Homo sapiens: one gene and its partner. Each later gene encodes a partner of the first gene's protein in a complex. Each region holds a gene or a part of one and is shown on either strand. Other genes may lie near its edges.

The links.
Region 2: the proteins of CSF3R (region 1) and CSF3 are in contact, whole or in part, in a crystal structure (PDB 2D9Q), measured with the Homo sapiens proteins. Residues at the interface, in NP_000751.1 of Homo sapiens: Arg164, Arg190, Lys191, Leu193, Leu194, Leu195, Tyr196, Gln197, Asp220, Met222, His261, Ile262, Asn263, Arg311, Pro313, Leu314; in NP_000750.1 of Homo sapiens: Ser42, Leu45, Lys46, Glu49, Gln50, Arg52, Lys53, Leu141, Asp142, Asp145, Thr148, Thr149, Gln152.

The regions. Positions count from the first base shown.
Region 1 is NC_000001.11:36,479,908-36,487,677, reverse strand, and holds the start of CSF3R (granulocyte colony-stimulating factor receptor isoform a precursor), read left to right. Parts: upstream 1-4,764; 5' UTR 4,765-4,867; intron 4,868-6,140; 5' UTR 6,141-6,200; intron 6,201-7,597; exon of another isoform or gene 7,598-7,691; intron 7,692-7,770. UniProt on the Homo sapiens protein: Receptor for granulocyte colony-stimulating factor (CSF3), essential for granulocytic maturation. Plays a crucial role in the proliferation, differentiation and survival of cells along the neutrophilic lineage.
Region 2 is NC_000017.11:40,010,709-40,018,329, forward strand, and holds CSF3 (granulocyte colony-stimulating factor isoform b precursor), read left to right. Parts: upstream 1-4,731; 5' UTR 4,732-4,766; coding exon 4,767-4,806; exon of another isoform or gene 4,807-4,982; coding exon 4,983-5,137; coding exon of another isoform or gene 5,138-5,146; intron 5,147-5,524; coding exon 5,525-5,632; intron 5,633-5,776; coding exon 5,777-5,923; intron 5,924-6,086; coding exon 6,087-6,251; 3' UTR 6,252-7,105; downstream 7,106-7,621. UniProt on the Homo sapiens protein: Granulocyte/macrophage colony-stimulating factors are cytokines that act in hematopoiesis by controlling the production, differentiation, and function of 2 related white cell populations of the blood, the granulocytes and the monocytes-macrophages.

The DNA of each region.
Region 1 (7,770 bases):
CCAGTGCGGTGGCTCACGCCTATAATCCCAACACTTTGGGAGGCCGAGCAGGCGGATTGCCTAAGGACAGGAGTTCGAGACCAGCCTGGCCACCATGGTGAAACCCTTTCTCTACTAAATATACAAAAATTAGCCAGGTATGGTGGCAGGCGCCTGTAATCCCAGCTACTTGGGAGGCTAAGACAGGAGAATCGCATGAACCTGGGAGGAGGAGGTTGCAGTGAGCCAACATCGCGCCACTGCACTCCAGCCTGGGCAAGAAGAATGAAACTCTGTCTCAAAAAAAAAAAAAAGAAAAGAAAAAGAAAAAAAGACTTAGTGGCATTTTCTCTGAGCCTTGAAGAATGAGTAGAATTTCAGCAAGTTGAGGTGGAGGTGAGGGAGGGCACTCGAGGCAGAGAGAACAGCCTGAGCAAAGGCCAGGAGGCGGAAAGTTCAGGGTGGGTTCAGGGAAGAAGGAGTGTCCAGTTTCTTTCTAAGTCAACAGCTCAAGGGCTTTTTGTAAGTGGGCTGTCCAAGCGGAGCAGCCTCCAGTAAACACCTGTTTGCACAATCGAGGTCACACACAGGGGCGCGTTTGCACAATGACCTGTTTGCACAATCTTAGCTGCCTGCTGTATTCCAGCCAACCCCGGCCCTGGCAGCTGAGCACCACAGCCTCAACTTCCGGGCACTCACCCCAGCTTGCCCACCTGGACCCCGCCCCGGCCCCTCTGAAACAAGCTGCTCCTTGACCTACCCAGAAGCCCCACACATCACAGGCAGTAACAGAAACAGAAACAACTCGGGGCTCAGTAGCTAGGCTGCCAAGAATAGGGTTCCCTCACCAGCACTCCCTTACCCAGGGTTTCCAACACACAGAGGCCTTGTCTGATGGAGGAGGGGCGGGAGGCAGGACAGCTGGAAGAGGAAGTATCCACAAAGCCGACACTGGGTGCGGGTAGAGGGGATGACTCCTCGTCTGTCTTGTGCTCTTCAGTGCACCATAGTAAACACTTATTAAGCATTTACTGTGTTCCTGGCTGTGTTCCACAAGCCTTACGGTCACTGATTTCTCTCAAGAATCCTATGAAGCCAATACTGTTAGCCCCATTTTACAGATGACAAAACCGAGGCTTAAAGAGATTAAACATTTGTTTGGAGTCACACAGGCAGCAAGTGGCAAATTGAAGCAGCCTGACTCCTCAGCTCATCATCTTAACCTCAGTACACTCTAAAGAAAGCTCTTCCTTAAATCTAACTTTCATTTCCTTAAATCTAACTTTTATTCTGGCTGCTGCAGCTCCATTTCCTGGTGCAGGTCCTCAACAGAGAATGGAGCACAAAGGAGAATAGTAGAATCTCCCTCCTAAATATTGAATTATGCAGAAGGGAACAAAGGAAAGCAACTTTATTGAACACCTACTATGCGCTGGTTACCATACTAGGCATTGTATTTCTGATAGCTAATTTAATTATCACAAAATCCCTGGGAGGAGTTATTATCACTGTGACAGATTAGGAAACAGAGGCTTGGAAGAGGTAAACACCATCTCCAAGGTTCTGCAGCCCAACAGATATGCATTGAGTATCCTCTGTGTGTCCGGCACTGTACTGAGGCTAGAGAGGCAGAGGTGAGAATACAGTTTCTGCCCTCAAAGAGTTCACAGTATAATGGAGGAGGCAGGCGGCCAACAGCCTACTACAGTATTACAGGATGAATGGGGAGAAGGGCCCCTAATTCAGCTTGACTAAGGTGTGGAAGCCCAGAGGGATGCTGAGCTCAGGCTGGATGCTTGAACTGGGTCAGGAACAGGACTCAGCCAGCAGGAGGTGACAGGCGCTCCGCAGAAGAAAGGCACAGGGTTGTTCCAGAGCCTGGGGCAGGCAGGGAAATACTAGTGAATTTGGCATGACCGGAGCATGACGGGCTGGATCTGAGGAAGCAGGGGCTGGTGAGGCAGGAGAGGGAGGCGAGGGTAACTTGCATGTCCGGTTCAGGAGTTAGGATGTGACGACGGGCCTCTGAAGAAAGACAGGGAGAGGAGAAGGATTGCAGGGCCATTGGCAAGGCTGAGACGGGAGCTCCATAAAGGCAGGAACTAAAACTGTGTCTCACCATTGTGTCCCTGCACCTGCTCCAGGAGCAAGTTCTCTGAATGATGAACAAAAGGCCCATTCTCCTTCATTAAGAACTGACTGGGGCCAGGCGCGGTGACTCATGCCTGTAATCCCAACACTTCGGGAAGCCGAGGCAGGCAGATCACTTGAGGCTAGGAGTTCGAGACCAGCCTGGCCAACATGGCAAAACCCTGTCTCTACTAAAAATACAAAAAAATTAGTCGGGCGTGGTGGTGCGTGCCTGTAGTCCCAGCTACTCAGAAGGCTGAGGCAGGAGAATCACTTGAACCTGGGAGGCAGAGGTTGCAGTGAGCCGAGATCGCGCCACTGCACTCTAGCCTGGGTGGCAGAGCGAGACTCCATCTCAAAAAAAAAGAATGAAAATAAAAATAAAAAATAAATTTAAAATGACCAGAAGGCCAGGTGCGGTGGTTCACGCCTATAAAACCAGCACTTTGGGAGGCTGAGGTGGGCGGATCACTTGAGGTCAGCAGTTCAAGACCAGCCTGGCCAACATGGTGAAACCCAATCTCTACTGAAAATACAAAAATTAGCCAGGCATGATGGCAGGCATTTGTAATTCCAGCTACTTGGGAGGCTGAGGCAGGAGAATCACTTGAACCTGGGAGTCAGAGGTTGCAGTGATCCAAAATCGCGCCACTGCATTCCAGCCTGGGTGACAAAGTGAGACTCTGTCTCAAAAAAAAAAAAAGAAAGAAAGAAAAAAAAGAACTAAAAGAACTGACTGGACATGGGAATGTGGAGAAAGGGTTGTAAGGAATGACTCCTGAGTCCCTGAGCTGCATGACTAGGGAGAGGAGGGGATGGTGGTTAATTCACCATGACAAGGTACGTGGGGATTAGAGACAGATTTGGTGAAGTGGGGGAAGATTCATCCAGTTGATCATTCATTCAACAAACACGCATGGAGGCCTTACTGTGTGGCAAGCAGTGTTATAGACACTGGAGATAAAGTTTTGAACAAAACAGATAAAAACTGTTGCTCTTATGGAACTTTCAGTCTAGTGGGGATTGAGACAGCCAATATCAGATGGTGAAAAGGGATTTGGGGGAGAGAGAGATAGGGAGTGGGAGGGAAGGGGCTTGCAAATTTTGAAAAGGGTGCTCAGAGAAGGCCTCAATGAGAAAGTGACATTTGAGCAAAGACCTGAAGAAGGGGAGGGACCAGCCCATGTAGCTATTTGCGGGGGAAAGAGTCCAGGCAAATGAAACAGCAAGTGCAAAGGCCCTGAGGCAAGAGACAGCATAACAAGTTCAAGAAGCAAAGAACACAGAGTAGCTGGAGCAAGGCAGCAAGGGGGAGAATAACAGGAGAGGGATCCAGGAGGTAACAGGGATACCAGGTTTTGTAGGGCCTTGTAGACCATCCAAAGGGCTTTGACTTTGACTCTGAATGAGACAGGAGCCATTGGAAAGGTTGGGACGAGGATGGGCTGATCAGACTTCTGTTTGATTGATATCGCACTGGCTGCTGAAGGAATTACAGACAGGTGCGGGAACAAGGATGAAATAGAAGCAGGAGAGCAGGCAGGGGGCTATTGCGATTATCTAGGCAATAGATGAGGGTAGCTTGGAGCTGGCTAGTATTGGTTTCAGTTATATTTATATTTTCCAAATATTATCATAAAAATATTCAAACGTAGAGCCAAGTTGAACTTTACAGTGAATACCCAGGATTCTGGTTATATTTGGAAAGAAGAGAGTCCATGGGACTCACTGAGCGAGCAGAGCCTGTGGGATATCTTGGGAGGGTTGCAGCAGGCAGTCAGGTCATTTGACTTGGAACTAGAACTACAGCCCTGGTCTGCAGCATCACACCAGACCCAGATGCCTCAAAAGGATTATATGTTAAGGACAGTCTGCTGGTCTGTTGGCACCTAACCTTTTTTGGGTTATGAATCCAATAAACTATGAGCAGTTTGAACCTTTCTCAGAAAATGCAAAGAAAATTATTTGTAGTTTTAGAAGAATCATGAATACAGACAATAAAAGACATAAAATGTAGTCTATTTCACTCAATTACAAAATATTCAGTGTTGCAGAACCATTGTGGGTAAACATTCCTAATTTTTAGTGAACATATAAAGACCCCGTGCCTCACCAAGACGTCCTCCTGTCTTGCCCCCAGAATTCCTGTTTCTCCATCTGCCTGGTCTATGGGCAATGCACAGAATACGTAATGAAGAGGGGAGCAGTGAGTATTGGGTTACACAATTCCCTGGAACCTGGAACACACCCTTCTGAGTACTGTGAAGATGTGGTCCCCAAGGCTAGAGCTGAAAAGAGGCTTAGGGCCGGGTGAGCCTTCCAGCCAGGGCCTGCCTCCAAGTGATGCTCCCCCAGGGCAGGGGGCATAAGGATGGCACCCAGCCAGGTGGGAGCCTGGGCCCTGCCCAGCCTCAAAGCTTTGAGCTCAGGAAATCCGGAGGCAGGGGAGGGGGACATCGTTGCCACATTCCCCAGCCCTTTAAGACCCCCAAGGCAGGAAGGCTGCCCGGGCCTCACCAGCTTCCCTCACAGGCTCCTTCCTGGGAGGAAGGGGCTGCCTGTGCCCTCGAAGGCGCAAGGGAGGGCAGGAGGGAGGCTCGGAAGGTGTTGCAATCCCCAGCCCCCGGGCCTGTCAGAGGCTGAGCCATTAACGACAGAGCTCGGGGAGAGAAGCTGGACTGCAGCTGGTTTCAGGAACTTCTCTTGACGAGAAGAGAGACCAAGGAGGCCAAGCAGGGGCTGGGCCAGAGGTGCCAACGTGAGTAGGGGATCCCTAGAGAGGGGCTGAGCCTTGGGCTTGATGGAGAGCTGGAATCCTGGGGCCACTCCCCACAGCTCTGCCAAGTGTTCATGTCCGGGGTCCTAGGCCTGGGGCCCGGGATTCGTCCTTTGGAACCCCAGCCCTGGACACTGAGTCTCTTTTCACAGGATGCCCCTACTTTTGGGGGTATTGCACCAGGGAAGTCACTCACAGCCAAGTATCTCCTTGGGGACACTGAGCTGGGCTGGGGACAGGCATAATCATTCTCCCCTCCCCATGCCTCTGTCTCTCAGGACGTGTGTGTCTGTGAGTTCCAGCCGCGCAACCCCTCCCCGTCTGGGTCTCTATTTCACTCTCTGTTTCCATCTTTCCTCCTCAGCTTCTCTCTGGCTTGCTATCTCTCTGAGTTTCTCTGTCTCGCATATTTCCTGCTATCTCTTGAATCTTAAACTCTCGGTAACAGACGCTTCCCGGGCTCCAGGCCTCCGAGTGCCCCCCCCCCGCCCACTCTCTGGGTCGGCGTACATTGGGCCCTTTTTCTCTGTCTCTCGATATCTCTCTGGCCTCAATCGTCCTCTTGGCGAGTCTCTCTGTCGTTTCAGTCTGTGTGGATTTCAGTCACCGCCTCACTCTGTCACTCTTCCTGTTGCTCTCTCTTTTTCTTTATCTGCAGCATATCTGGAAATGCCTCTCCCCTCTGTTTATTCCCAGCCCCCTCCTCCCTCCCCACCCTTCCCACAGAAAGAATCTCGAGGTGAGAGTAGAAACAGCAAGGGAGCGAGGGGTGTGAAGTGGGGAAGAGAGTGTGAGGGGAGAGGGCTGAGCGTGATGAGGGAGAAACAGAAAGAGGGAATGTGAAGGCAGCCAGCCCAGGAGACATCGAGCTGTGCTGGGCCACAGGAGTGAGCACCTGCAGAGCCCAGCAGAGATGGCCGCAGTGACAGGAGGGCCAGGGGGCCCAGGAGTTAGGAGGAGAGGATCCAGAAAGGGGGCTTTGGAACTGCGCAGTGTGGCACAGACAAAAGCAAGGTGGCAGTCCTGGGAGGTGTGACCACACAGGCTGTGAGGGAGGCAGGGGTGAGGGGAAAACTGAACTGTGCTGGATTCTGTGAGCTGCTGACCTGCTATTTATGGCTCGTGAAAATAACCTATGGTTGCTGAGTGCCAACTCCATGCAAGGCACAGGGCTAAATGCCTTTACCAAAATAATCTCATTTCATCCTCACAACAACGCTGAGGAGTGAGTGCTAATGTTATTTCTTTCCCACAGATGGGGAAACTGAGGCTCGGCTCGGAAAGGTGAAGTAACTTGTCCAAGATCACAAAGCTGGTAAGTGGCGGAGCTGGAGATCAAGTCAGGTGACCTGAATCTGAGCTGGGCTCCAAACCTCTCTGCATATCGGCCCCCCAGAGAGTGAGACCATGCTCCAACAGGTCCTAGGCCCACTTAACCAGGCTGGGGGACGTCCAGGGCTGCAGTGGAGGACCAGAGACTGAGGCCAAGCAGGCCAACACCCAGCACCCAGGGGAAGGATGCCGGGGCCTCTTGGGGTTAGGTTGTCTACTCTGGACAGGAGCCAGTGGAGGCGGATAGGGTGGTACTGCACGGGGCATAGGCTGGGCCTGAAGCTGACCCTGGCTAGGGCAACAGGGCTGGGATAGGATCAAAAGCACATGGAGATGAAAACCAGTGTCCCAAAATCTGGGCCTTGGAGGCTAAATCTTCCCCAACCAGTGTTGCGGGGGGATAATCAAACTGGTATGCTATAGTAAGAAGGTTACCAACCACCGATGGGTAGACAGATGCTCGGGATACTTGTACAGGTTTCTCACTGCACAAAACTGAGGAGTAACTGGAGCCGAAATCCAGGCTGTTCCCTAGTTGCCAGGTCCTAGTGTGGTGCTGCATCCATCCAGAGGAAGGGGTGCTTTCTTTCTGATTTGCACAAAGGAGACTTACGGGCTAGCAGTCACTGGGTATTCCGATACTGCAATATATACATGGATAGACTGGGGGTTTGGGTAAGACCCCTGTGAGCAGTAACAACCTTGGGTATCTGGGCAGTTCTTATCCACACCTCTGTCTGGGAGGAAGAGAAAAGGATTCTCCTACCTTTCTCCCTGCTGAGCACGAGGGATCTGCTGGGACACCACCTGCGTGTATGTGTCCAGATATGTACGTGCAAGCTGACCAGCGATTCCCACTGATCTGCCACCAAGAGCACCAACTCGTGCTGGAGGATCAGGTGTTGGCTCCAAGACCCCAATGGGAGCAGGGTGAAGATGAGGCTGGACACCCACCCAAGTGGTAGAAACCTCTGCATACTTCCTAAGACTGGAGCCAAGGCACCCTCCATCCAGGTGCTATGGCCGTGACCTCATGATGCCTGACCCCAGAAGGCCACCAGAGGTCTGTGCCCAAAATTGGGGGCACACTGGACCCTTCGGGTGCCCCACTTGATATTCTCTCAGCCCACATGGCTGAGGCAGCCAGCTTCCTGCAGGCATAACCTGACAGCCCCTTGCCTCAGCTGCTCCATAGAGTTCTCCCTTTCTTCCAGGGAGTGTCCCTGACAACACTGGCATGGCTTCCCCAGGAGAACCTGCCTAGTACTCATGCATGCCCAACCTGGATGTGCCAGGGAATGAACACCCCAAGAGGCATCCCTTGACCAATGGGGGGCAGGAGTCAGTGGGTAAATCTTTCCATCTTCCCTCCCATCCAAGGGATAAATTGACCCTCCAGTGGACAGCTCTGAGAAGTGTTCTACATGGCTCTTTGGAAGGTTCCAGCAGGATAGAGCCCCAGTTGTCCATAGAGGTGACCAACATGATGATGTAACTTTGTGCTGGCTTTCTCTCCTTCCCTGTTTCATTCTCCCCAGTCCCTTATCTGCTGC
Region 2 (7,621 bases), on another chromosome or scaffold:
CCCAGCACTTTGGGAGGCCAAGGCGGGTGGATGGCTTGAGCCTGAGAGGTGACAGCATGCCGGCAGTCCTCACAGCCCTCGTTCGCTCTCGGCGCCTCCTCTGCCTGGGCTCCCACTTCGGTGGCACTTGAGGAGCCCTTCAGCCCACCGCTGCACTGTGGGAGCCCCTTTCTGGGCTGGCCAAGGCCAGAGCCGGCTCCCTCAGCTTGCAGGGAGGTGTGGAGGGAGAGGCTCAAGCAGGAACCGGGGCTGCGCGCGGCGCTTGCGGGCCAGCTGGAGTTCCGGGTGGGCGTGGGCTTGGCGGGCCCCGCACTCGGAGCAGCGGGCCAGCCCTGCCAGGCCCCGGGCAATGAGAGGCTTAGCACCCGGGCCAGCGGCTGCGGAGGGTGTACTGGGTGCCCCAGCAGTGCCAGCCCGCCGGCGCTGTGCTCGCTCGATTTCTCACTGGGCCTTAGCAGCCTTCCCGCGGGGCAGGGCTCGGGACCTGCAGCCCGCCATGCCTGAGCCTCCCCTCCATGGGCTCCTGTGCGGCCCGAGCCTCCCCGACGAGCACCACCCCCTGCTCCACAGCGCCCAGTCCCATCGACCACGCAAGGGCTGAGAAGTGCGGGCGCACGGCACCGGGACTGGCAGGCAGCTACCCCTGCAGCCCTGGTGCGGAATCCACTGGGTGAAGCCAGCTGGGCTCCTGAGTCTGGTGGAGACTTGGAGAACCTTTATGTCTAGCTCAGGGATCGTAAATACACCAATCAGCACCCTGTGTCTAGCTCAGGTTCTGTGAATGCACCAATCCACACTCTGTATCTAGCTACTCTGATGGGGCCTTGGAGAACCTTTATGTCTAGCTCAGGGATTGTAAATACACCAATCGGCACTCTGTATCTAGCTCAAGGTTTGTAAACACACCAATCAGCACCCTGTGTCTAGCTCAGGGTATGTGAATGCACCAATCGACAGTCTGTATCTGGCTACTTTCATGGGCATCCGTGTGAAGAGACCACCAAACAGGCTTTGTGTGAGCAATAAAGCTTTTATCACCTGGGTGCAGGTGGGCTGAGTCCGAAAAGAGAGTCAGCGAAGGGAGATAAGGGTGGGGCCGTTTTATAGGATTTGGGTAGGTAAAGGAAAATTACAGTCAAAGGGGGTTTGTTCTCTGGCGGGCAGGAGTGGGGGGTCGCAAGGTGCTCAGTGGGGGTGCTTTTTGAGCCAGGATGAGCCAGGAAAAGGACTTTCACAAGGTAATGTCATCAATTAAGGCAAGGACCCGCCATTTACACCTCTTTTGTGGTGGAATGTCATCAGTTAAGTTGGGGCAGGGCATATTCACTTCTTTTGTGATTCTTCAGTTACTTCAGGCCATCTGGGCGTATATGTGCAAGTTACAGGGGATGCGATGGCTTGGCTTGGGCTCAGAGGCTTGACAGCTACTCTGGTGGGGCCTTGGAGAATGTTTGTGTCGACACTCTGTATCTAGTTAATCTAGTGGGGACGTGGAGAACCTTTGTGTCTAGCTCAGGGATTGTAAACGCACCAATCAGCGCCCTGTCAAAACAGACCACTCGGCTCTACCAATCAGCAGGATGTGGGTGGGGCCAGATAAGAGAATAAAAGCAGGCTGCCCGAGCCAGCAGTGGCAACGGGCACAGGTCCCCATCCACAATATGGCAGCTTTGTTCTTTTGCTGTTTGCGATAAATCTTGCTACTGCTCGCTTTTTGGGTCCACACTGCTTTTATGAGCTGTAACACTCACCACGAAGGTCTGCAGCTTCACTCCTGAAGCCACTAAGACCACGAGCCCACCGGGAGGAATGAACAACTCCGGCCGCGCTGCCTTAAGAGCTATAACACTCACCGCGAAGGTCTGCAGCTTCACTCCTCAGCCAGCGAGACCACGAACCCACCAGAAGGAAGAAACTGCGAACACATCTGAACATCAGAAGGAACAAACTCCAGATGCACCACCTTAAGAGCTGTAACACTCACTGCGAGGGTCCGCGGCTTCCTTCTTGAAGTCAGTGAGACCAAGCACTCACCAGTTTCGGACACAAGCCCAGGAGTTTGAGATCAGCCTGGGCAACATGATGAAATGCCCTCTCTGCAAAAAAAAAAAAATTACAAAAATTGGCGGAGCATGGTGGTCCGTGCCTGTGGTCCCAGCTACGCGGGAGGCTAAAGTGGGAGGATCGCTTGAGCCTGGGAGGTGAAGACTGCAGTGAGCTGTGATTGTACCACAGCCCTCTAGGCTGGGGGACAGACTGAGACCCTGTTTCCCCTCCGCAAAAAAATTGACAAAAGTGTAATAAGAGGTGCCTGATATGGCTAGGCGCAGTGGCTCATGCCTGTAATCCCAGCACTTTGGGAAGCCGAGGCGGGCGGGTCACCTAAGGTCAGGAGTGTGAGACCAGCCTGGCCAACATGGAGAAAGCCCATCTCTTCTAAAAATACAAAATTAGCCGGCTGTGGGGGCAGTGGTGGAGCATGCCTGTAATCCCAGCTACTCAGGAGGCTGAGGCAGGAGAATCACTTGAACCCAGGAGGCGGCGGTTGCAGTGAGCCGAGATCGTGCCATTGCACTCCACCCACTCCAGCCTGGGCAACAAGAGCCAAACTCTGTCTTAAAAAAAAAAAAAAAAAGTGCCTGACATATAAGAGGTGTGCAATGCAATAGTTGCCAGGCAACATGTTTAAGAATGTGGAGCTCCTGCCTTCCATGGTCCTGTTAAAAACCCACCCTCAAGGCCAGGTGCAGTGGCTCATGCCTATAATCCCAGCACTTTGGGAGGCCGAGGCGGGTGGATCACCTGAGGTCAGGAGTTCGAGACCAGCCTGACCACCAACATGGTGAAATCCCACCTCTACTAAAAATACAAAATTAGATGAGCATGGTGGTGCATGCCTGTAATCCCACCTACTTGGGAGGCTGAGGCAGGAAAATCACTAGAACCAGGGAGGCGGAGGTTGTAGTGAGCCGAGATCGTGCCATTGCACTCCAGCCTGAGCAATGAGCGAAACTCCATCTCAAAAAAACAACAACAAAAACCCACCCTCTACTCCCAGGGAGCTGGGTACAGAGCTGGGCCACATCAGTGCAAGGTGCTGAGCCACAGAGCTAAGGCGGAGCTGCAGGACCGCGGACCAGATAACAGTGTGTGAGATCAGTGTGTGAGATCAGACGTCCCTGCCATTGGTGACCACCAGGGGGCCCCCAAGCACCAGAGATGGCCCCATCCAGTCACCACATCCACTTCTCATCCAGAGATGTCTGTTTCTTGGCACGCTGGGGTAAATTAGGACAGAAGGTGACAGTCTTGGGTGTGGTCAGTCAGACTGCCCCAGGCAGGCCTTGTGGCCTGTAGAAAACGTTCAGGCCTAGGCCGGGCACGGTGGCTCACGCCTGTAATCCCAGCACTTTGGGAGGCCGAGGCGGGTGGATCACGAGGTCAGGAGATCGTGACCATCCTGGCTAACACGGTGAAACCCCGTCTCTACTAAAAATACAAAAAATTGGCCGGGCATGGTGGCGGGCACCTGTAGTTCCAGCTACTCGGGAGGCTGAGGCAGGAGAATGGCGTGAACCCGAGAGGCAGAGTTTGCAGTGAGCCGAGATCGCGCCACTGCACTCCAGCCTGGGCGACAGAGCAAGACTCCATCTGGAAAAGAAAAAGAAAACGTTCAGGTCTGAGCCAGAGGCCCAGGCTGTAATTCTGTCACTTACCATGACCTTGGGCAAGGCACTTCCTTCCCTGGCCCAGTTCACGGGGTTGGAATCGACTCCAAGGTCCCTTCCAGCATTAACGCTGCATGGTTCTAAGATGAGAAGATGGGGCAGTTTCCCCTCTCTCACCCCAGCCCGTGTCCACTTCAAGGTGAATGACCAGGGAAGTCACGTGTCCCAATCCCGCAGTTCCAAAGCCCTTGGGGACCCTACTGTCAGGGTCGTGCACGAGGAGGTGAAGGTCAGGTGAGCCAATCGCCTCGAAGGGTCTTGCCTCATTCGGGACAGACATCCGGTTTCCTCTGGCTCTACCGGGATTCTAGGGGCTTTAGCCGAATGAGTCATGGGGGGCGGGGGGGTTTCTGGGGGAGTTCCCAGCTAATCAACTTGGGACAGGACAGCCTGGAACTTTCGATGGTGCCTATCCAAGTGTGGGGTGGGCACAGCAGCCAAGACCCAATGTCCTTATCTCAGGTAGGGGCTCAGGAGGTCTCCCAGACAGGCAGCCTCCGGAGAGTTTGGGGGTAGGAATGGGAGCAACCAGCTTCTTTTTTTCTCTCTTAGAATTTGGGGGCTTGGGGGACAGGCTTGAGAATCCCAAAGGAGAGGGGCAAAGGACACTGCCCCCGCAAGTCTGCCAGAGCAGAGAGGGAGACCCCGACTCAGCTGCCACTTCCCCACAGGCTGCTGCCGCTTCCAGGCGTCTATCAGCGGCTCAGCCTTTGTTCAGCTGTTCTGTTCAAACACTCTGGGGCCATTCAGGCCTGGGTGGGGCAGCGGGAGGAAGGGAGTTTGAGGGGGGCAAGGCGACGTCAAAGGAGGATCAGAGATTCCACAATTTCACAAAACTTTCGCAAACAGCTTTTTGTTCCAACCCCCCTGCATTGTCTTGGACACCAAATTTGCATAAATCCTGGGAAGTTATTACTAAGCCTTAGTCGTGGCCCCAGGTAATTTCCTCCCAGGCCTCCATGGGGTTATGTATAAAGGCCCCCCTAGAGCTGGGCCCCAAAACAGCCCGGAGCCTGCAGCCCAGCCCCACCCAGACCCATGGCTGGACCTGCCACCCAGAGCCCCATGAAGCTGATGGGTGAGTGTCTTGGCCCAGGATGGGAGAGCCGCCTGCCCTGGCATGGGAGGGAGGCTGGTGTGACAGAGGGGCTGGGGATCCCCGTTCTGGGAATGGGGATTAAAGGCACCCAGTGTCCCCGAGAGGGCCTCAGGTGGTAGGGAACAGCATGTCTCCTGAGCCCGCTCTGTCCCCAGCCCTGCAGCTGCTGCTGTGGCACAGTGCACTCTGGACAGTGCAGGAAGCCACCCCCCTGGGCCCTGCCAGCTCCCTGCCCCAGAGCTTCCTGCTCAAGTGCTTAGAGCAAGTGAGGAAGATCCAGGGCGATGGCGCAGCGCTCCAGGAGAAGCTGGTGAGTGAGGTGGGTGAGAGGGCTGTGGAGGGAAGCCCGGTGGGGAGAGCTAAGGGGGATGGAACTGCAGGGCCAACATCCTCTGGAAGGGACGTGGGAGAATATTAGGAGCAGTGGAGCTGGGGAAGGCTGGGAAGGGACTTGGGGAGGAGGACCTTGGTGGGGACAGTGCTCGGGAGGGCTGGCTGGGATGGGAGTGGAGGCATTACATTCAGGAGAAAGGGCAAGGGCCCCTGTGAGATCAGAGAGTGGGGGTGCAGGGCAGAGAGGAACTGAACAGCCTGGCAGGACATGGAGGGAGGGGAAAGACCAGAGAGTCGGGGAGGACCCGGGAAGGAGCGGCGACCCGGCCATGGCGAGTCTCACTCAGCATCCTTCCATCCCCAGTGTGCCACCTACAAGCTGTGCCACCCCGAGGAGCTGGTGCTGCTCGGACACTCTCTGGGCATCCCCTGGGCTCCCCTGAGCAGCTGCCCCAGCCAGGCCCTGCAGCTGGTGAGTGTCAGGAAAGGATAAGGCTAATGAGGAGGGGGAAGGAGAGGAGGAACACCCATGGGCTCCCCCATGTCTCCAGGTTCCAAGCTGGGGGCCTGACGTATCTCAGGCAGCACCCCCTAACTCTTCCGCTCTGTCTCACAGGCAGGCTGCTTGAGCCAACTCCATAGCGGCCTTTTCCTCTACCAGGGGCTCCTGCAGGCCCTGGAAGGGATCTCCCCCGAGTTGGGTCCCACCTTGGACACACTGCAGCTGGACGTCGCCGACTTTGCCACCACCATCTGGCAGCAGGTGAGCCTTGTTGGGCAGGGTGGCCAAGGTCGTGCTGGCATTCTGGGCACCACAGCCAGGCCTGTGTATGGGCCCTGTCCATGCTGTCACCCCCAGCATTTCCTCATTTGTAATAACGCCCACTCAGAAGGGCCCAACCACTGATCACAGCTTTCCCCCACAGATGGAAGAACTGGGAATGGCCCCTGCCCTGCAGCCCACCCAGGGTGCCATGCCGGCCTTCGCCTCTGCTTTCCAGCGCCGGGCAGGAGGGGTCCTGGTTGCCTCCCATCTGCAGAGCTTCCTGGAGGTGTCGTACCGCGTTCTACGCCACCTTGCCCAGCCCTGAGCCAAGCCCTCCCCATCCCATGTATTTATCTCTATTTAATATTTATGTCTATTTAAGCCTCATATTTAAAGACAGGGAAGAGCAGAACGGAGCCCCAGGCCTCTGTGTCCTTCCCTGCATTTCTGAGTTTCATTCTCCTGCCTGTAGCAGTGAGAAAAAGCTCCTGTCCTCCCATCCCCTGGACTGGGAGGTAGATAGGTAAATACCAAGTATTTATTACTATGACTGCTCCCCAGCCCTGGCTCTGCAATGGGCACTGGGATGAGCCGCTGTGAGCCCCTGGTCCTGAGGGTCCCCACCTGGGACCCTTGAGAGTATCAGGTCTCCCACGTGGGAGACAAGAAATCCCTGTTTAATATTTAAACAGCAGTGTTCCCCATCTGGGTCCTTGCACCCCTCACTCTGGCCTCAGCCGACTGCACAGCGGCCCCTGCATCCCCTTGGCTGTGAGGCCCCTGGACAAGCAGAGGTGGCCAGAGCTGGGAGGCATGGCCCTGGGGTCCCACGAATTTGCTGGGGAATCTCGTTTTTCTTCTTAAGACTTTTGGGACATGGTTTGACTCCCGAACATCACCGACGCGTCTCCTGTTTTTCTGGGTGGCCTCGGGACACCTGCCCTGCCCCCACGAGGGTCAGGACTGTGACTCTTTTTAGGGCCAGGCAGGTGCCTGGACATTTGCCTTGCTGGACGGGGACTGGGGATGTGGGAGGGAGCAGACAGGAGGAATCATGTCAGGCCTGTGTGTGAAAGGAAGCTCCACTGTCACCCTCCACCTCTTCACCCCCCACTCACCAGTGTCCCCTCCACTGTCACATTGTAACTGAACTTCAGGATAATAAAGTGTTTGCCTCCAGTCACGTCCTTCCTCCTTCTTGAGTCCAGCTGGTGCCTGGCCAGGGGCTGGGGAGGTGGCTGAAGGGTGGGAGAGGCCAGAGGGAGGTCGGGGAGGAGGTCTGGGGAGGAGGTCCAGGGAGGAGGAGGAAAGTTCTCAAGTTCGTCTGACATTCATTCCGTTAGCACATATTTATCTGAGCACCTACTCTGTGCAGACGCTGGGCTAAGTGCTGGGGACACAGCAGGGAACAAGGCAGACATGGAATCTGCACTCGAGCAGCCAAAGCCTGGCAGGGAAGACAGAGGCACAGGGACCATGGGAACCCGGAAAGGAGAGGGCATGGGGTCTGGGTGGGCTTAACAGGCCAGACACAGCCAGACAAGATGAAGCCAGGGAGTGCTGAGCATCTGCACCAGGCTTGTCATTTACCATCTTCCATAAACTTGAGCCCATCCATCAAGTTGCCCACAAAGTGGAAGCCAAGTTCAAGGTGACCACTGGGGTCAGAGCTTCTCTCCTCAGACTCGGTCTCTG